Linked DNA regions of Homo sapiens: region 2 is linked to region 1. Evidence: fine-mapped expression QTL. Tissue or cell type: substantia nigra. Region 1 holds a variant in brackets; the other region holds the start of a gene. All regions are shown on one strand. Distances are between the middles of the regions.

The links. PIP is the estimated chance that this variant, and not a neighbour inherited with it, causes the effect.
Region 2: it holds the start of TMEM225B, and the variant in region 1 is the best candidate, but not a certain one, in a credible set for the expression of TMEM225B in substantia nigra (GTEx, PIP 0.73).

What each region holds. Positions count from the first base shown.
Region 1 is chr7:99,560,127-99,571,958 of GRCh38, reverse strand. It overlaps ZNF655 (zinc finger protein 655), which reads right to left. Exons shown (of 3, transcript NM_138494.3): 2 at 11,264-11,426. The coding sequence starts at 11,399. Among named protein-coding and RNA genes, the nearest start is that of ZNF655, 7.4 kb to the right of the region's middle. The variant G/A (reference allele first, on the strand shown) is at 6,895.
Region 2 is chr7:99,595,101-99,604,411 of GRCh38, reverse strand. TMEM225B (transmembrane protein 225B) reads right to left here and starts at 6,145. Exons shown (of 6, transcript NM_001195541.3): 1 at 6,031-6,145; 2 at 4,127-4,207; 3 at 1-26. The coding sequence starts at 23.

The DNA.
Region 1 (11,832 bases):
TACTAAACAAATGGAAAGGGTCAACCTAACTGAAGGGAAAAGGAAGGAACTCTCCATGCTAGGACACACACAGAGCTCTTCATTCTGAGTGCCAAAGCAGCTACAACTTGGCTCAACAATTGAACTTTACTTCCCTACTAATTCTATCTGATTCTGCCTTACTCACCTGAGCAGTCATCTCTTAAGACTTCTCTAGTCTTAGTTTCCAGATCAAAGACCTGTAGATCCTGTTCCAGCTGGGAGATCCCATCAGGCTTGGAAATTGGAAATCCTGCTCATAGAGAAGGAAATGGGATGTGGCAATGTATCCCCAGGTCCTACATCTGCCACTTTTTCTTTTAACTAATGATTAAGAGAGACAGAAGGTCGATTCTGAGAAGACATTAATTAGGAAGGTCTGGAGAGTGAAGAGGGCAAAGATCTACAAGGAGCTCAGATTTGTGCTCTAGAGGGATGTGTGTTAAGGGGCAAGTTGATGACTTGGGAGCAGAAGGATTCATTTAAATATTATTCAGACAACAGAATGTGTGCATGGGTTTGTCTTCACAGAAGTTATCATTATCACTCTCCATCTGTTACCTAAAGATTAATCTTCGGATTAGATCTGGTCTACAAGTATCAAAATGGAGGTCATCAAAATGTAATTCTGCTGGACTGGAGAAAGGTGAAACTCAAGCACCTGCTGCATGGTTAGCTAACCTGTAGCAAGAGAATCAGTGAAAACTGAATAAATATTCTAAGGACCAATCTCAAGAAACAATTTGTTTCAGTACACATAAGAAAACAAAGAGTAATATGACACATTCTTACCCATTAGGAGTGTAGCATTTATTCAACAAACATTTATGAAGTGCCTCCTCTATGCAAAGTATGCAGGGGATAAGAGGCCAAGAAGGTCCCTTCCCTCAAGGACCTCACACTCTACACAGAGACAGCTCTAAACAACTAACTACAATAAAATATAGAGAGGGAAGTGCAATCAGTGCATCTTCACATAAAACAGTCTTTCTATGGCTTGCATAATGCAATGCTTGGATATAAATCTCTTTTAAAGCTAAAGCAACAGGCAGTCTGCTTCCAAGGAGACAGAATTTTAATACTATTAGTATCAAAGGGCAGTTTTTAAATGTGTCCAGCCCAGAAAGCTTCTAATAGCACACATACAAGGTCTGGCTCAAGCCCCTCATCTCCAAAAACCTTTCTCTCCATTTACTGAATGTGTACAAAATTTATTAGTTGTTCCCTCTTATCCTGACATGTCACATATAACGGTGTTTACATAGATTTTTTTTTAAGTGGTTTCAGGTATTGTCATTCATACTTGATTTATAAACTCTTTGATAGAAGGGACCAGGTATCTTGTATCTTGCAATTCTTTTGATTAATTTACTTAACGGCTACTTATTGAGTGCCAACTCTGTGCGCCCAAGTATCAATGTATTAACAGCTACCCAATTTTATAAAAAGGGCATTGGGGCTGGAAAATATGAAGAACTGACAGCTGCCCCAAAGATTCCATGTGAGAGCCTATGAGCAAGGAGATCAGAATAGATAGAAGAAAGGTATTTACTGTGTTTCTGAAATCCTGTGGGACATTTAGAGTCAACTCTCCTTGTGGACATATATTTAATTAAGGTCCACCCTGTCAAATGAAATCGTTTCAGAAGTTTAAAAAGTAAAGTTAGTGTAACATGAAGCAGCAATCAATATTGTTCTCAGAATTCCAATAACATAATTTGCAACTTTTAACTCTGAGATATTTAAAGTGTCTGTCGATATTTGGTAACTGAAATAAATTCTGGCTGCTTACTCCATATCTACACTTAAAACACATATGCACAACAAAAAAGGTGGTCTTCATGTGGGATGAGGGGTTTGATTTTAGATGTGTGTTTAATGTAATGTACGAAGGTATAAGAGAAAATGCCCAGCAGATGAGTACGCAAAGGCATACAGAGTGATAAAATGGACTTCAGAGACTAAGAAGGGAAAGGGTGGGAGAAGGGACAAGGGATAAAAAACTATATATTAGGTACAATGTACACTATTCCAGTGACAGGTGCACTAAAATCTCAGAATTCACCACTATGTATTAGAATTCATCCATGTAACAAAAAACCACTTGTACGCCCCCAAAACTACTGAAATAATTTTTTTTAAAAGAGAAAATGCCTAGCAGGTAAAGATACAATATCACAGTTTAGAAGAGAGAACAGGGTATCATCAGTACCATCAAAATATTATTAAGTTTTACTAAGTACTTGGTAGGTGCAAAGTACCATGCCAAGAGCTCTCTAGGTTTTCACTCATTTAATACCATAAATTTAAAACGTAGAAACTATTATTATAGCCATTTTACAGATGGGAATACTAAGATTCAGAGTGGTTAAGTAGCTTGCCCAAGGTTACAATAACTGGTAATGCTTAGTTTTCAAACCTGCACAGTCTTATTTCAGAACCTAGCCTTTAAACAATCTGCTAGTAAAAAAAAAATTATGATTTTGCCTCCTAACAAGCCCTGAAAAAAAATAAATAATGACTGTGAACAAAATCCATCCCTTCCTCCAAATTACACACAGAAAGAACGTGTAAGTTTTCTTGGCACTAGCCTAAATGCCTATTTCCTAAATTTAACTCAAAACTTTGCTTTCAAAATATGCACTTGCTTTATTTACATTTTTCCTGTTTAAAATTAATGTATTAAAACTTTTTGATTTTATTTAAATCTTGAGTTTTCTAATATGATTTATAAAATATTGACAGTGAAGTAAAAGGTAAATACAAACAACAGAGAAAAAGTGATTAGAATAACATACGGTGAACCAGGATCCTAAATAATTGGAGTCGCAGAAGTGTTAATTAAAAGGGATCTATGGCTGGGCACAGAAGCTCACACCTGTAATCCCAGCACTTTGGGAGGCCATGACGGACAGATCACTTCAGCCCAAGAGTCTGAGACCAGCCTGGGCAACATAGTGAGATCCCACCTCTACAAAAAATACAAAAATTAGCCAGGCATGGTGGCACACGCCTGTAGTCCCAGCTACTTGGGAGGCAGAGGCAGAATGATCGCTTGAGCTCAGAAGGCCGAGGCTGCAGAGAGCCAAGATCACACCACTGTACTCCAGCCTGGGTGAGAGTGAGATCCTGTCAGTCAGTCAGTCAGTCAATCAACCAACAAACGAATCAAGAGGATCTATGGACCAGGCATGGTGGCTCACACGTGTAATCCCAGCACTTTGAGAGGTCAAGGCAGGAGGATCTCATGAGCTCAGGAATTTGAGACCTGCTTGGGGAACATAGTGAGACTCCATCTCTACAAAAAATTAAAATTAAAAATTAAAAGGGATCTAAAAGATGATTTATTATCAAGGAAATGGAAATCCTTTACAATAAAAATCCAAACCCCAGCCAGGCACGGTGGCTCGCGCCTGTAATCCTAGCACTTTGGGAGGCCAAGGCAGGCAGATCACAAGGTCAGGAGATCGAGACCATCCTGGCTAACACGGTGAAACCCTGTCTCTACTAAAAATACCAAAAATTAGCCGGGCGTGATGGCGGGTGCCTGTAGTCCCAGCCACTCGAGAGACTGAGGAAGGAGAATCGCTTGAACCCGGGAGGCAGAGGTTGCAGTGAGCCGAGATCACGCCACTACACTCCAGCCTGGGAGACTCCATTTCAAAAAAAAAAAAAAAAATCCAAATCCCTAGACAATAGTCCAAACAATAATAAATTTGAGGAAACTCCACTATAAATAAATAATTTGAACACACTCCTGAAATTTTTATTTGTATTAAAAAATCTGGTCTATGGCTCATATCGCTTGCTATTCTTTCCAAAATATTAAAGTAACTAGCACAAGGCAGGTACTTAATTTTTTTTTTTTTTTTTTGGCCGGGGGGTATGGAGTCTCGCTCTGTCGCCCAGGCTGGAGTGCAATGGCATGATCTTGGCTCACTGCAACCTCCACCTCCCGGGTTCAAGCGATTCTCCAGCCTCAGCCTCCTGGGTAGCTGCAATCACAGGCATGTACCACCATGCCCAGCTAATTTTTGTATTTTTAGTAGAGACGGGGTTTCACCATGTTGGTCAGGCTGGTCTCGAACTCCTGACCTTGTGATCCGCCCACCTCACCCTCCCAAAGTGCTGGATTACAGGCGTGAGCCACCGCACCCGACACAAGCCAGGTACTTATATGCATAATCTAATTCAATCCTGTACCCAGAAGGTAGACATTATTTTTCATGTTTTATAAACCAAGAAAATGAGTGTCAGATTAAATAATTTGCTCAACATACTACAGCTGGTAAGTGGAACCCAAGCTTGATCCCAGTTTATATTCTTTCCAACCTATCATACTGCCTATCAAAGAAAGCATTAGTAGCAGGTTCTCTTGACATTGACGTGAATGCTTTTTTTTTTTTTTTGAGACGGAGTTGCACTCTGTCACCCAGGCTGGAGTGCAATGGCACGATCTCGGCTCACCTCAACTCCACCTCCTGGGTTCAAGTGATTCTCCTGCCTCAGCCTCCAGAGTAGCTGGGATTACAGGCATGCGCCACCATGCCCGGCTAATTTTGTATTTTTAGTAGAGACGGGGTTTCTCCATGTTGGTCAGGCTGGTCTCGAACTCCCAACCTCAGGTGATCCGCCTGCCTTGGCCTCCCAAAGTGCTGGGATTACATGTGTGAGCCACAGCACCTGGCCGACTCTATGCTTTCAAAATATGCACTTGCTTTACATTTTTTCCGTTTAAAATTAAGTTATTAAAACCTTTTGATTTTAAGGCTGGATGTGGAACACATGAGGCCAAGAGTTCAAGACCAGCCTGGCCAACATGGCAAAACCCCATCTCTACTAAAAATACAAAAATTAGCTGGGTATGGTGGTGCATGCCTGTAGTCCCAGCTACTCTGGAGGCTGAGGCACAAGAATGGCTTGGGCCTGAGAGGCGGAGGTTGCAGTGAGCTGACATTGTGCCACCACACTCCAGCCTGAGCGACAGAGCAAGACTGTCTCCAAAAAAAAAATTATTTTATTTAAATCTTGAGAGTTTTCTAATAAAATTTATTTTAATCTGGTCTTCAAAAATAACAGTTAAAGCTGAGCATGGTGTTGGCTCACATGTGTAATCCCAGGACTCTGGGGAGCTGAGGCATGCAGATCACTTGAGCCCAGGAGTTCAACAGCCTGGGTAACATAGCGAAACACCTTCTTTACTAAAAATAGAAAAAAATTAGCATGATGGTACAGGCCTATAGTCCCAGCTACCCAGAAGGCTGAGGTAGGAGGATCACCTGAGCCTGGAGGGAAGTCCAGGCTGCAGTGAGCTGTTATCATGCCACTGTATTCTAGCCTGGGCAACAAGAGGGGACCCTGCCTCAAAAATAATATTTAAAATTTGCCTTATCATATGGTTTGCTGCTTTTACTACGGCTATGCTTTTAGCCATCTGAAAGCTTCACGCTTTTCTTCCTGGTCCTTAATACACAAATAATATCTCTCCTTAGCAATATCATTCTTTTGTAGATACCTGTTGGACTGGAATGTGTCCCTAGAGAGTTTTACTTTTTGAATGCATGTCCTTTCTGGTCCCAAACTATATACTGGCCTGTCTGTCCAATTTGTCATGGCATTTTGAATTTTTCTTGTCATCAGAGTACACACAACTCACTAAAAATATTAAAAACTCCATGTGTAGTTGAACTTATTGTCCTAAGGGCACAAAGTAGTGAAAAAGTGCAGGGGCTTCAGAGGCAGATCTGGGTCCCAAGCCTCTCACTGATCCTGCAAAGATCACTTAACTTCTCTGAGCCTCAGTTTCCTCAGATATAAAATAGGAGCAGTGTCATCTGCTCACAGGGTTATGGTAAGGATTAAATGAGATATATACACATATCCTTTATATATATATATACACACACACACACACACACATATAAATGTCCTATGTCTGTGTGTGTGTATATACATATGTGTGTGTGTGTGTATACATACATATATATAGTACCCAATAACATATTGGCTGCTCAATAAATACTAAATAGCTGTGACAATGGAAAACATTCTGTGCAAAATAACTGTAGTCCTTCATGACATCAAGTTAAAAAAGCAGAGAGTATGTGCCAAACATTCCCAATCTACTGACCCAGTTAATATCAATTAGAATTTTAACAAGCATGCTTCTGAGGCCATCATCTAATAGGGCACCTGCCACACTTACCCATGTGAAAAGCAACTCGGTCCCCTTTATGGGTCTTAATCTACCACACTAAGTAACAGGTAACTTCCCTATGGATAGTGACCCAGAGGCAAATTGTTCATTCATCATCAATGGAGTATGTTCTTTTTTCAATTATGTGGTAACGAAAATTACTTATTACCGACTTCTTTACTCAGCTATTTGTACTCTGTATATTTACTGCTGCATAGTGGAAGCACTTAAGCAAAGGACCAACGTTCTAATGTCTGTGACAAATACAATCTGGAGGCCAGGCGCAGTGGCTCACAACCTGTAATCCCAGCACTTTGGGAGGCCGAGACAGGCGGATCACGAGGTCAGGAGATCGAGACCATCCTGGCTAAGATGGCAAAACCCCATCTCTACTAAAAATACGAAAAGATTAGCCAGGCATGGTGGCGAGCATCTGTAGTCCCAGCTACTTGGGAGGCTGAGGCAGGAGAATGGCATGAAGCCGGGAGGTGGAGCTTGCGGTGAGCAGAGATGGTGCCACTGCACTCCAGCCTGGGCAACAGAGCAAGACTCCGTCTCAAAAAAAAAAAAAGTCTTACAACCCTAAAAAGTTAAATTAATAAATGTATAAACTTAACCCAGTTATGCTGGAGGTTGCAATTTTTGTTAAAAATCAGACCTTGGCGATGACCTTGAGCAGC[G/A]GGACATAAATAATTCCCGCAAGCTTAGTGTTCCAATAATGGAACACTAGGCATAAATGGGTTAATTTTCAGATGAAGTCTGCTGAACCCAAAAATATGAAAATGATTTCCCAAGGATTGTAAAAATAACTGCTAAGGAGATGCTGCTAACTTGATCACAAAAGCAAGATGAGTAGAAGGCTTTCTTGCACTGTGCGTGTCTCTTGTATGTGTAAAAGTGTGTATGCATGTCGACTGCATGTCGAGTGTGCAGTGCAGAGATAAGAGAGGAAATGGGATAAAGTTCAGTCTATAGCATACTATGCTATTAGACTGCATTAAACTGCTACAAAGTTTCTTTACTCCAAAAAGTAGACAGGTTAACTGTTGGAAACTCTGTAATTATTAGATAAAATTAACAGTACTTTACAATTATATGTATGTCACTTTACAGTTTACAAAGTTATTAAGTAGATATTCAATTTGATGCCCTGAAATAAATTTAACTTCTTTGCCCTCCCTTCTCCCCTCCATCAAGGACAGAGTAAGGAACACTTAATCAGGAAAGGCAATATAATTGCATCAATCTGTACAGAACCACAAAGAATAAAGGGTAGGAAGGTAGGACCTTGAAGAGGGCCACAGGGACTTCAAGGAAGGAGGAAACCAGAATGTTAAACATGAGGGAAGCCCAGGGTTCACAGGAGAGTTAGGCACCATACGGGGCAGGTTGTGTTCGCCACATAAAAGGAGGGGCACACAGCATAAGTTTCACATTCTAAAATAATATGAAAAGACCATAACTGAAGAGCTGAATTTGGAATTTCTGGTTTTTCACAATACAAGTAGATGATGACCACCAACCATGGTTTCTGAATGAACTGGGTTCAAAACATATCTGGTTGCAACAGAGGGCTTCCTTGGACCCTAACATTTGAAATTAAACAGAGGTAATTTGAGGAGCTGCGATTTTACACAGTGGTGGCATCCTGGGGAGCTTCTATTCCATCAGTCAATTTTAATATCTCACAATCGTGGAAAAGGAGTTTCCGAGCAGGGACGAGCAATATCGATGGGAAGCCGATACTTGGGCCATCTCTTGGAGATTCCTGCTGTAAGGACGGCAAGTGTTTCTCCAGAGAAAGCACTTGCCTGGGTATGACTCAGGGCCGGGCAGGAATTCACACTATGAATCCGGGTGGTGGGAAGGCGGAGAAGTATGCCTACAAAGATTAAAGAGCCAGGAATGGAAAACACACTAAAAACCGTCCCAGTGGGCAGCCTGCCTCCCCACAAATAAGAAGACCTTGAATCCTGAGCATAATCAGGGAGACAAAGCAATGCCCTGGATGCCACCAGCATAGACAAAGCCAACGGAAAAAAAAAAAAGAAAAGAAAATGCATGATTCAGTATTTACACACACAAAAAGAAGAGTGCAGAAGCAAGCAAGAAACTAAAGAAAAAGGAGGCTGGGTGCGGTGGCTCATGCCTGTAATTCCAGCACTTTGGGAGGCCAAGGAAGGTGGATCACTTGAGGTCAAGAGTTCGAGATCAGCCTGACCAGCATGGTGAAACCCCGTCTCTACTAAAAATACAAAATTAGGCGGGCGTGGTGGCCCATGCCTGTAATCCCAGCTACTTGGGAGGCTGAGGCAGGAGAATCGCTTGAACCTGGAAGGCAGAGGTTGTAGTGAGTTGAGATTGCACCACTGCACTCCAGCCTGGGCAACAAGAGTGAAACTCCATCTAAAAATAAAATAAAATAAAAAATATAATATAATATAAAAAATAAACTAAAGAAAAAGGAACAATGCTCACACCAAGGGAGCTGCCGACAAACCCCACTGATGCTTCCCAGCAGCACTACAGCTTGGCTAATCCCAGCTTCCCACTGTACCTTTCAAAATGACAAGGGAGAGACATGAGTTAAGCATTGACCCCACCTCAGCATGGGGTAAACATCTGAGATTTCTGCTGCCCTGGGTGTGGTTACGTGGGATTACCATTCTGGGTGACTCACTGAAATGTACTCACAGTGAGTCATGCCTTCAAATGACATCTCAAGTTCTGCCTGCTTGGAGATACATCTGGGGATCTTAAGGGGTGAGGGACTACTCAACAAGAAGGAATTTAGCCTGTCTTTTTAAATAAACGGCATTTCTTTTTCCTAGAAAAATGGGAAATTCTTCAATTCTCTAATACAGGGACACTGAGATAACAAAGAGGAAAGTGTCTGGTTGGAGGTTGGGAGGCCACCCTGGGGTCTCTCCTACAAAAATGGAAAAGAAAAGAACGGTGAGAAATCAAGCAAAGCACAAGAAAGTTTCCCTTTGCTAAAAGGGAAAAGATGCCCCACAATGGCCATAAACATGAACTGGGGATAAGGAGGAGAATGTCTCTTCTTGGCACCCCCAAACAAACGTTAATTACCCCTCCCGGAGAAGACGATGTGAAAGATAAGGATTCAGAGGTTCTAAGTCCTGGAATCTAAGCCACACTCTACAGACCTTCTCAGAGACCTTATACTTAGGAAGAAACAAGAAAGTAAAGAAATTCAAATAGATAAACCGAATAATAAGGAAGTCCTTACCCAGTGAGACCACGTTCCCATAATTCTCTAACATCACTTCTCTGTAGAGGTCCCTCTGAACAGGGTCCAGGTATCCCCATTCCTCTCGAGTAAGGTGCACAGCCACATCCTCGAATGTCACAAACTCCTGAAATAACACATCCTGGCTGCTCTGAGGAATGAGAACACTGTAGCACCATGGCCAGAGAATGAAGATCATAGAGAGGGTATCCACTGTGTACTTACGTTGAGGAGGAGGGAGAACAGATTAGAACCTACGGAATAAAGCCCATAACCCTTAAACATCTAATAAGCACCCATCACACAACCATGGACAAAGAGAAAACAGAGTTTGCTCATGGCACTGGGGAGATGGGAAGTTGGTTTATGTGAAGTCCAGGTCTCCGAAGAGGATCAATTCCCAAACTGGAGTCTGCTATTGAAAAAAATTCCAGGCAAGGTCTACAGATGGGATGAGAGAGAGGCCACACTCCATCAGTAGCAATAGTCCCTGAGGAAAAGCAGAGGGTTCCTCAGCTCACCTGGTACCTGGCTGTCAAGAGCGCAGCTGCCTGGTCTCCTGGGCTTCCCTCACGGGGAAGAGCAGGCACCTGAGGAACAGGTGGAGCTGAGGGAGGAGAAAGGAGTGAAGAGTGAGAGCAGCCCTTTCCCAGGGCTCCCTTTCAGAGGAGGCCTCTCCAGCCCAAGGGGTGTCAGCAGGACCCTCCTCAATACTCTAGTAAAACCAATGAACATTTTTCAGGTATTGGGTGTGTCTACTCTGCTTCGTCTCAGTACTTGCATGCCTTATGCGTGTTTTGACCTGTGATACAGGATTTTCTTAGGAAAGCTTGTATTTCACTTTATCTTCATCACATGACAGTCCTCTTACAGAAGAGTAAGACTATACCTGTTTTGCAGATGGGCAAAGCAAAGCATAAAGACTTGTGGGGACTTGTCCTGGGCTAGGGTTATTTAGCAGACTTCTGACCCTTTCCAGGCACTGTTCTAGACACTTGATCAGCGTTTCTCTTGTGAATGGGTGCTGTCTCAACCAGTGTGTAAGGCCCCCAAGAACAAGAAAGGGTCATCTGTTTCCTCGAAATCTTTTCCACAGTCCCACAATCCCCCACAGCACTCTACACATTGTGGCACTTGATCTGTGTGGGTGACACACAAGTTATTTCAGGCACTAGAGTTAACCACAGGCAATCTAAGACACAGCTCTTATAAAACAAAGGAAGAAAAAGACCAACCTACCTATACGATACAGCAAAGTGTGACTGCGTAGTCAAAATACAGTATATATACATTCATACAGGCATTGTGTTCAACCAAGGAATTAAATGGTTGCTTCCTTGACCAAATTTAGTCTAGTCACAAAACACTGCAGTTACAACAGAATGGATGGCAGGTGACAAAGCAAAGAAAAACTAAGTGAAGGGAACAGGGGAAAGAAAGGTCCTGAACCTAAGAGGAAGTGAGAGCCAGGAAAGGACTGTGAGATGTGGCAAAAGCAGCATATCTTAGAAATTATTCTGGATGTGAGAACTGGGATGAAGTGAAGGTTGCCTGAAGGAAAAACCACCACAGCGAGTAAGCAGCCATCACTCTGCTTATTTGAGAAAGATGAGCTATCCTTAATAAAGGGGCTCAGACTAGGACTGAACTGAGTCACATCTGCCCCCTCTTTCATTCCTCCCTCTAGGGACCATGTTCTTATTCCAGTTCTTGGCCTCTCTCAAACCAGGCCCAGGAGCCCCCTCGGGAGCCCCTCCGCACTCCCACTCTCCCAGACGGAAGTGCTTTCTCTGCCTTACCCCCAGTGAGTCCCTGTTCCATGTCGGTGTCCTGCACAAACTGAGGCTCTGGGGACAGACACTCAGACTGGGTCTCCAAAGACTGAAACTGGACCCTTGGTGACCCTGCTGCTTCCTGGGCTGGTATTTCCTCCATCACTGCTCTGGAGGACAATGACCATCACTGCAAGGTAAGATTAAGAGAAATTACTGTAATAAGTTAAAGCATTTCATCATTTTATATCGTCAGGACTTTGCAAAGGATCTTACACACTATGGATATTCAATAAAAATTAGTTGATAATGATTAACCACCCTAAATAAGTAACAGAAAAATGGGGCCAGGCGCAGTGGCCTGTAATCCCAGCACTTTGGGAGGCTGAGGCGGGAAGATCACTTGAGGTCAGGAGTTCAAGACCAGCCTGATCAACATGGTGCAACTTCTTCTCTACTAAAAATACAAAAATTAGCCAGCGTGGTGGTGCGGGTCTGTAATCCCAGCTATTCGGGAGGCTGAGGCAGGAGAATTGCTTGAATACAGAAGGCATACGTGGCAGTGAGCCAAGATTGCACCACTGCACTCCAACCTG
Region 2 (9,311 bases), 34 kb before region 1:
TCCTTGTCCTCTAACGTCAGCATCACCTGTGTAAGAGAAAAGTGATCGTGGAGGTGGGACACCGACCCAAATTCTCCTGCAGCACAGAGGGAAGGAGACAGTGGCTGGGGAAATGTCAGTGCTGTGTGTGGCGCATATGTGAAACTCAGTAAATGATGATTTCTTTGCTTAACTTTACAGCCTATACACCTCTGCAGCAGACCAAAAAAAAAATGCATAAAATGCTTTCTGTCGCTAAATCACTGGGTGATCTTGGGCATGTCAGGTTCCCTCTCTGAGCCCTCTTCCTCTGGTAAACTGAGGAGGTTGAACTGGGCCATTCACAAGGCCTCCTCAGCTTTAAAGTTCTCAACTTTCAGCTGGGTGCGGTGGTTCACACCTGCAATCCCACTACTTTAGGAGGCTGAGACAGGCGGATCGCTTGAGTCCAGAAGTTCAAGACCAGCCTGGGCAACATGGCGAAACCCCGTCTCTACCAAAAATTAGCCAGGCATGGTGTTGCACACCTGTAGTCCCAGCTACTCAGAAGCCTGAGGTGAGAGGATCGCCTAAGCCCAGGAAGGTCAAGGCTGCAGTGAACCATGATCACACCACTGCCCTCCAGCCTGGGTGACAGAGCAAGACCTTGTCTCAAAAAAAAACAAAAAAAAAAATTAAATAATTTAAAAAAAAGAAAAAAACTAAAGTTCTAAGCTTTCAATTCTTTTTTTTTTTTTTTAAGATGGAGTCTCGCTGTTGTCAGCCCAGGCTGGAGTGCAATGGCACCATCTCAGCTCACTGCAACCTCTGCCTCCCAGGTTCCAGCAATACTCCTGCCTCAGCCTCCTGAGTAGCTGAGATTACAGGCGCCCGCCACCACGCCCAGCTAATTTTTGTATTTTTAGTAGAGACAGCGTTTCACCATGTTGGCCAGGCTGGTCTCGAACTCCTGACCTCAGGTGATCCACCCGCCTCAGCCTCCCAAGGTGCTGGGACTGCAGGTGTGAGCCACCATGCCTGGCCCTAAGCTTTCAATTCTATCAACAGCCACCTCTACTGGCCATCAGGACAACTCCAGCCTATTTTGCAGTCAACTGTCTTCCTTTTGGGATTTCAGACTGAGAACCAAGGGGAGATATTCAGACCAGAGCCTTAGGTGCCCTTATTCAGTGACTGGCCTTCTGACCACAGGAACTGTGGGTTTAGGTGGGGAGAGGTCCATGTGCACAGGAGGAGCCCCTGCTGAGAAATGAGCAGGTCATGTACAAACAGGAAGTTTTACAAAGAGTTCTGGTGTTTCATAGAGCCTCCTGCAGCCTGGGCCCTCAGTGAAGGATCCCTATCACGTGGAGTTCCTCCCCCAAACCCATCTTCTCTTTCATCACCATCTGTCACTAAGATGTCTCCTTTTGTGGCCAGTCACTGGTGGCTCATGCCTATAATCCCAGCATTTTGGAAGGCTGTGGTGGGAGGATCGCATGAACTCAGGAGTTTTGAGACCAGCCTAGGCAACACAGTCAGACCAGTCTCCACAAGAAATTGTTAAAAATTAGCCAGGCTGGGGGCATGTGCCTGTCTGTAGTTCCCAGCTACTTGGGAGGATGAGGCAGGAGGAACTCTTGAGCCCAGGAGTTAGAGACTGCAGTGAGCTATGATCATGCCGCCGTACTCCAGCCTGGGCAACAAAGCAAGACCTTGTCTCTGAAAGAATAAAAATTTTCAAAAGATGTCATCTTTTGAATGAGTAGTTACACCGTGGTGGGTAAGTGCTGGCTGGTCTTGTCTCAGCTTCATCACTTCCTAGCTGTGTGATCTTGGGGAAGTTGCTCAGAGTCTCAGGACCTTGCTTTCCCCATCTGGAAAAGGAAGGATATAACACCTGCCTAAGGATAAGGAAGGATATATTATAACACCTGCCCAATGATAAGAATACAACACCTGCCACTGAGAGGACCAAATGAAATAACGCATACCAAAGTGTCCAACACAGTGCTGAGCACTCAGGTGCTTGGTTAAAGTTGGGAGGGCAGGGATGGAGGGCAGACTTCTAAAATTCAGATATCCCTGTGGGAGAAGGGGCTGGAGGCCACACCCAACTTCAGGACAAATTGTTTCAACGAATCTGCTTTCCCCTCTGTCTGTGCTGAGCCTGGCAGCTCTGAGGAATGAGAGTTATCCAGCAATGGGAAGGAAGGAAGCAGGGACGGTGATTGGAGCTGCAGGGAGGGTGGGCCTGGCCAGAGGCCTCCAGGTGGCACTGTGATGACCCTCGCTACCTGGCAGTGCAGAAAGGGGGCATCAGGTGAAAGGAAGATGTGACAAGGGAGGTGCACCCCAAGATGACAGTCTTTCTTTCCAAGTCCTACCCAAAGCCAGACCTGGGGACCCTTGCCTGTGCCAGGCTGGGCTTGGCAGCATCACGGTTTTCAAGCTGTGCCTGGGCAGTAGAGAGCACAAGGCCCTCGAAGTGAGCATGCTTTCCTCCCCTGCTCCCACACCCTGTGCAAACCTTGCCCAGTGCAGACACTGGGGCCTCTACCCAATCCCCATGCAGACCCTCACTGCAGCCAGGGAAGGGGGCGTCTTTGCCCATGCAGACACTTGCTGCAGCCAGGGAAGGGGGCGTCTCTGAGAGCTACCAATGGCTATGGCTGAACAAGCCTAATGGCAGAGGGCAGAGGTGTGGCTCCCTTCCTGTACCCCCCACACCCAAGTACCCTGGTTATAAACAGGTAAACACATGTTCATCTTCGATGCTGTCAGAGTGACTTGAAAATGTTTGTACTTTCTCTTCCTTTCTGACATTCTCTAGTTTCTCTTCTTCCCACTTGAAAAATTGAATTATTCCCTTCTTTCCTTATTATATTTTGTTTTTAGATACAGGGTCTCACTCTGTCACCCAGGCTAAACCTCCTGGGCACAAGTGATCCTCCCACCTCAGCCTCCTGAGTAGCTGGGACTACAGGTGCGTGCCACCACGCCCAGCTAATTTTTTAATTTTTTGTAGAGACAGGGGTCTAACTATGTTGCCCAGGGTGTCTTAAACTCCTGAGCTTAAGTGATCTTCCTGCCTTGGCCTCCCAAAGAGTTGGGATTACAGGCTTGAACCACCACACCCAGCCCTTCCCTCTCTTTAAATGTCCCCTTTCCATCTCCCATCCACTCTCCAGGTCATACAAGTCACCCCAACCTCAGGGCTTCCACTTCCTTCTATCTAAAATGATGAAGTCTGTTGGACCAGAGGGCATTGAGGCATCCTTCTAGTATTAGAACTCAATGGGAAGGAGTCATGGCTGCATCTTGATCCTGTCCTCTGTATAGATGGGAGTACACTGGGCATTCTCATTTGATAGGGGGCACCTCTTCCTGTCTACCCCATCTCCACCTGTATGTGACTAGAAGTGATCTCTGTCTCCTTTATTTTCTACCTTTTTTTCTCTCCTTCACCCAAACCCTAGCCTTGAGCTCATGCTGGTTCTTCCCTCTCCCCAACCCCACTTCCATCTCATCAGCCTTCCTCATCTTCTCAGTTTTCCCTTCATAAAGTTCCCCAACCTTCCAACCTTCCTGTCCCCACGCCTGCCACGTCTCCCTCCACACCTGGAACATCACCGTCATCCCCAGGCTCCTCTGGCCTCTGTACCTGGTGATTTGGTTTGGCTGTGTCCCCACCCAAATCTCACCTTGCATTGTAATAATCCCCATGTGTCAAGAGCAGGGCCAGGTGGAGATAATTGAATCACGGGGGCAGTTTCCCCCATACGGTTCTCGTGGTAGTGAATAAGTCTCACAAGATCTGATGGTTTTATAAGTGGAAGTTCCCCTGCTCAAGCTCTCTCCTGCCAGCCACCATGAAAGATGTGACTCTGCTCTTCATTCGCCTTCAGCCATGATTGTGAGGCCTCTGCAGCCATGTGGTGCGAGTCAATTAAACCTATTTCCTTTATAAGTTACCCAGTCTTGGGTATGTCTTTATTAGCAGCATGAGAACAGACTAATACACCTGGGTTCCTTCCTGGGGGCGGGGGTGCCTGTTCTGCTCCCCAGATTTTCCAAACCCCACTCCCCTGAAAAGTGCAGCTTGGTGCTGTCCACTCCACGCAGCCCTCCCAGCCACTCCCTCAGCAAAAATTCACTGTGCACTTACAGGTCGCCCCACTCCCAATGTAGGCCAATGGTGGGGATTCAGAGATGAAAAAAGGCAGGAACTCAGAGGCTCTTGGAACTGCTAGGGAGAGAGACACAGAAACACATCATGTGATGCAGTGCTTTTGTCTTCACAGCCCGGGGTTACTTTGGGGCCAGGTATACCCCAGGGCACTACCCCTTATCTGTCCCATTCCCACTGCCCCCTCCACTCTCCAGTGATGAGGACCTTGTCCTCCTTTCCCTGGGCACCAGTCCAGGTCCCTCCCTGAAGCAGCCCTTAGTGCCAGCACTGGACAAGGTTACATCTTCGGATACACAACTTCAGATCCGCACGGATATAGGCCAGACTGAAAGGTCATAGATATTTGAATATAAGAGGGGATTGGTAGATCCTTTTGTACAGAAGCAGAGATGGAGAGCTGGAGAGAGGGAATGACTGGTGGAGGATTCCACAGCCCATCAGTGCTGGCACAGGGACCAGAATACTGCATCACTGCCAGGACAGTCTCACCAGCCACCAATGGCCGGCAGTTCAATTCAGTGATTCCCAAATCTGGAATTCTGTGGATCCAGAGAATGCTTTCTTATAGGCATGTGCATGTGTGAGAAAGAGAGAGAGAATGGGGGAATATACGACTGCCAACTTTTTATTTTGCCAAGAGCATTAAAAACAAAGCAACTTATCTACTGTCACTGGTTTGGTTTTTATTCAAATTTTTGTTGTTGTTCTTTTTTGAGACAGGGTCTTGTGTCACCCAGGCTGGAGTGCAGTGGTGCATTCATGCCTCCTGGGCACAAGCGATCCTCCTGCCTCAGCCTCCCGAGTAGCTGGGACTACAGGTGTATGCCATTACACCTGGCTAATTTTTTTTTTGAGATGGGGTCTTGCTATGTTGCCCAGGCAACCCCTGGGCTCAAGTGATCCTCCCACCTTTACCTCCCAAAGTGCTGAAATTACAGGCATGAGGCCCCACGTCTGGCCAAATTATTATTTTTTAAAGGACCCATGGGCCGGGTGCGGTGGCTCACGCCTGTAATCCCAGCACTTTGGGAGGCCGAGGCAGGTGGATCACGAGATCAGGAGATCGAGACCATCCTAGCTAACACGGTGAAACCCCGTCTCTACTAAAAATACAAAAAAAAAAAAAAAAAAAAAAATTAGCCAGGCGTGGTGGGGGCGCCTGTAGTCCCAGCTACTCAGGAGGCTGAGGCAGGAGAATGGCGTGAACCCGGGAGGCGGAGCTTGCAGTGAGGCGAGATCGTGCCACTGCACTCCAGCCTGGGCGACACAGCCACAGCGAGACTCCGTCTCAAAAAACAGAAAGGACCCATAACACCAGGAGGTAAGAAAAGCTGTGTACCCCGTGGTGGTGCCTGGACCAGCGTCTGAGGACCACTGGCTTGGCAGGAGGTTCCTGGACCCTAGGCCCCCTTCAGCGCCTGAGCTGCAGCCCCGCACCTCCCAGGCCCTGGCACTTAACAGGAAAGTCGGCAGCTGCTCTGGGGATGAAGGAAGTGGGCGACCTGAAGGGCATCCTGGTTTGGAATGGGAAAGAGACCTTCCCTTCCCACTGTTTCCTCCGGTCATTTGTGGCAACTTGGACTGCACATTGACCCAGGGTAGGGTCAGAGGTTCCTTCCCGTTGACAACCGTCCTCGGCCCTTTCCCCTGAATGCCAGGACTCCGCCCTTCTGTGGCCCCAAAGCCATAGGGATATTTTCAAGACCCCAAGCTGGGCCCTAACCAGGCCATCCGCCCCCAGCCCCTGCCCCGGGCGTCCCACAGCCAGTTAGGCGATGTTCGGCCTTGGGTGGGTAGGGGGACTTCCCCACATCCTCTCCCAACCTGTGGGGCCACCTTGCTCTCCCCCATACTGGTCTCCCCTCTACCCTTCCCTCCACCTGCGGCACCGTCGTAGGCGGTTTCGCGTCCCAGAGCTGGGCTGCCCTCCAGGCGGGTCACGGTGGGACCCTCGCCCTCCACTCCAGGCTCCACCGCGCTCCTGGAGCTTCCGTTGGCCCCAGAGGCCCCGGCGGGGGGTTGCCCCGACCCGGGGGAGGAGCCCACTGAGCCTGGGCCTCTGAGCGGAGCTCCAGCTCCAGCTCTGCGGAGGAGACGCGGGCTCACCTCCCTACCTGCCGCCCCGGCCACCGCAAACCTGGCGGGTGGAGGGTGGGGAAACCAGGCCCTGGCGTCTGCCCACAGTACCGGCTTCGCTCACGGGTGTGTGGGGGCGGAGGAACAGAGAGCGGGAGGGATCTGAATTCAAATCCTAGCTCTGCCATTACCAGCGTGGGGACTTTGAATAAATTTCCTGTGTCTCCTTCCTGGGTCCTGGGCTTCTAATCTGTAAAATGGGAATAATAATAGTATTAATAATATGGTGTTAATAGTATTAACACTATTATATTAATGATATACTATTAACACTATTATATTAGTAATATAGTGTTGAGTGTTAACACTTATATTAATAATATAGCGTTAATAGCATTAACACTATTGTATTAATAATATAGGGTTACTATTAACACTGCTATATTAATAATACATGATTAACACTATTAATCATATAATAGTGTTAACACTATAATATTAACAATATAATATAGTGTTAACACTATTATAGTGTTAACACATATTATATTAATAACACTATTATATTAATAATAATTGTTAATAATATAGTGTTAACAGTATTATAATTATATTAATAATTAATAACACTCGTATATTAATATTATAATTAATAATAATAAAGTGTTAATAGTATTAACACTATTATATTAATGATAATAGTGTTAACACTATTAATAATGTAATAGTATCTACACTATAATAATAATATAGTGTTTCATAATATAGTGTTAGGCCGGGCGCGGTGGCTCACGCCTGTAATCCCAGTCCTTTGGGAGGCCAAGGCAGGCGGATCACGAGGTCAGAAGATCGAGACCATCCTGTCTAACACGGTGAAACCCCGTCTCTACTAAAAAATACAAAAAATTAGCCGGGCGTGGTGGGGGCGCCTGTAGTCCCAGTTACTCGGGAGACTGAGGCAGGAGAATGGTGTGAACCTGGGAGGCGGAGCTTGCAGTGAGCAGAGATGGCACCACTGCACTCCAGCCTGGGCGACAGAGCAAGACTCTGTCTCAAATAATAATAATAATATAGTGTTAACACTATTATATTAATAATATAGTGCTAACACCATTATATTAATAATATAGTGTTAATAGTATTAACATTATTATATTAATAATATAGTGTTAACACATATTAGTAATGTAGTGTTAACACTATCATATTAAAAATATAGTGTTAGTAGTATTAACTCTCATATTAATAACAGTGTTAACACTATTATATTACTAATATAGTGTCAATAGTATTAACATTATTATATTAATAGTAGCACACTGTGATATTACTAATATCTGTAATGTTAATGATATTCAGTGTTAGCACACTGTGGTATTACTAACATCTATGATATTCATAGTATTCAGTGTTAGCACACTGTGATATTACTAATATTTGTGACATTAATAATATCCAGCGTTAGCACACTGTTAACACACTGTGATATTACTAATATCTATATTATCTATCATATTAGTGATATCCAGTGTTAGCACACTGTATTAACACACTGTGATATTACTAATATCTGTGATATTAATAATATCCAGTGTTAGCACACTGTGCTATTACCAATATTTGTGACATTAATAATTTCCAATGTTGGCACACTGCAATGTTAATAATATCTATGATACTAAAAATATCCAGTGTTAGCACCCTGTGTTGTGTTAATAATGTCTATGATATTAATAATATCAAGTGTTAGCACCCTGTGATGTGTTAATAATAATATGATATTAATAAAATCTAGTATTAGCACCCTGTGACTTGCTAATAATAATATCCAGTGTTTGCACCCTGTGTTGTGTTAATATCAATGATATTAATAATATCCAGTGTTAGCACACCGTGATAATAATATCCAGTGTTAACACAGTGTTAGCACATTGTGATATTAATAATTTATATGATATTCATAATATCCAGTGTTAGCACACTGTGTTAGCAAAATGTGATATTAATATCTATGATCTTCATAGTGTCCAGTGTTAGCACACTGTGATATTAATATTATCTATGATATTCATAATATCCAGTGTTTGTTAGCACACTGTGTTATCATACCATATTATTCATAATATCCATGATATTAATGCTGATATCCAGTGTTAACACACTATGTTAACACACTGTGATACTATTCATAGTATCTGTGATATTATTACTAACACACATTAGATATTAATACTAATATCCAGTGTTAACACACTGTTATATTACTCAGAATATTCATGATATTACTACTAATGTCCAGTGTTAACACACTGTGATATTTTTCATGATATCACTAATATCCAGTGTTGACACACTGTGTTAACACACTGTGATATTATTCCTAATATCCACAATATTACTACTGATATCCACTGTTGTTAACACACGGTGATATTATTCATAATATCCAGTGTATTACTATTGATATCCAGGGTGTTAATACAATTAATATCCATGATATTATGAATAATATCACCCTGTGATATCCAGGATGATATCCTGATACTGATCCACTACTGATACCCAAGATGTTAACACATTGTGTTAACACCCTGTGATATTATTCATAATGTCTATGATGTTACTACTGATATCCAGGGTGTGAACACACTGTGTTAGCACCCTGTGATATTATTCATAATATCCATGATATTACTACTGACATCCAGGGTGATAATGCAGTGTTAACACACTGTGTTATGTTTGTAACATCATCGATATCACTACTGACATCCAGTGTTTCACACTGTGATATTAATGAAATATCGCTGTTACATTTATAATATACAGTGTTTCCACACTGTGCTATGTATGAAATATAGTATCCAGTGTTTCCACACTGTGCTATGAATGAAATATTATACTATCCAGTGTTTTCATACCGTGCTATGAATGAAATATTATAATATCCGGTGTTTCCAAACTGTGCAATGAATGAAATATTATACTATGCAGTGTTTCCAAACTGTGCTATGAATGAAATAATATTCAGTGTTTCCACACTGTGCTATGAATCAAATATTATAATATCCAGTGTTTCCACACT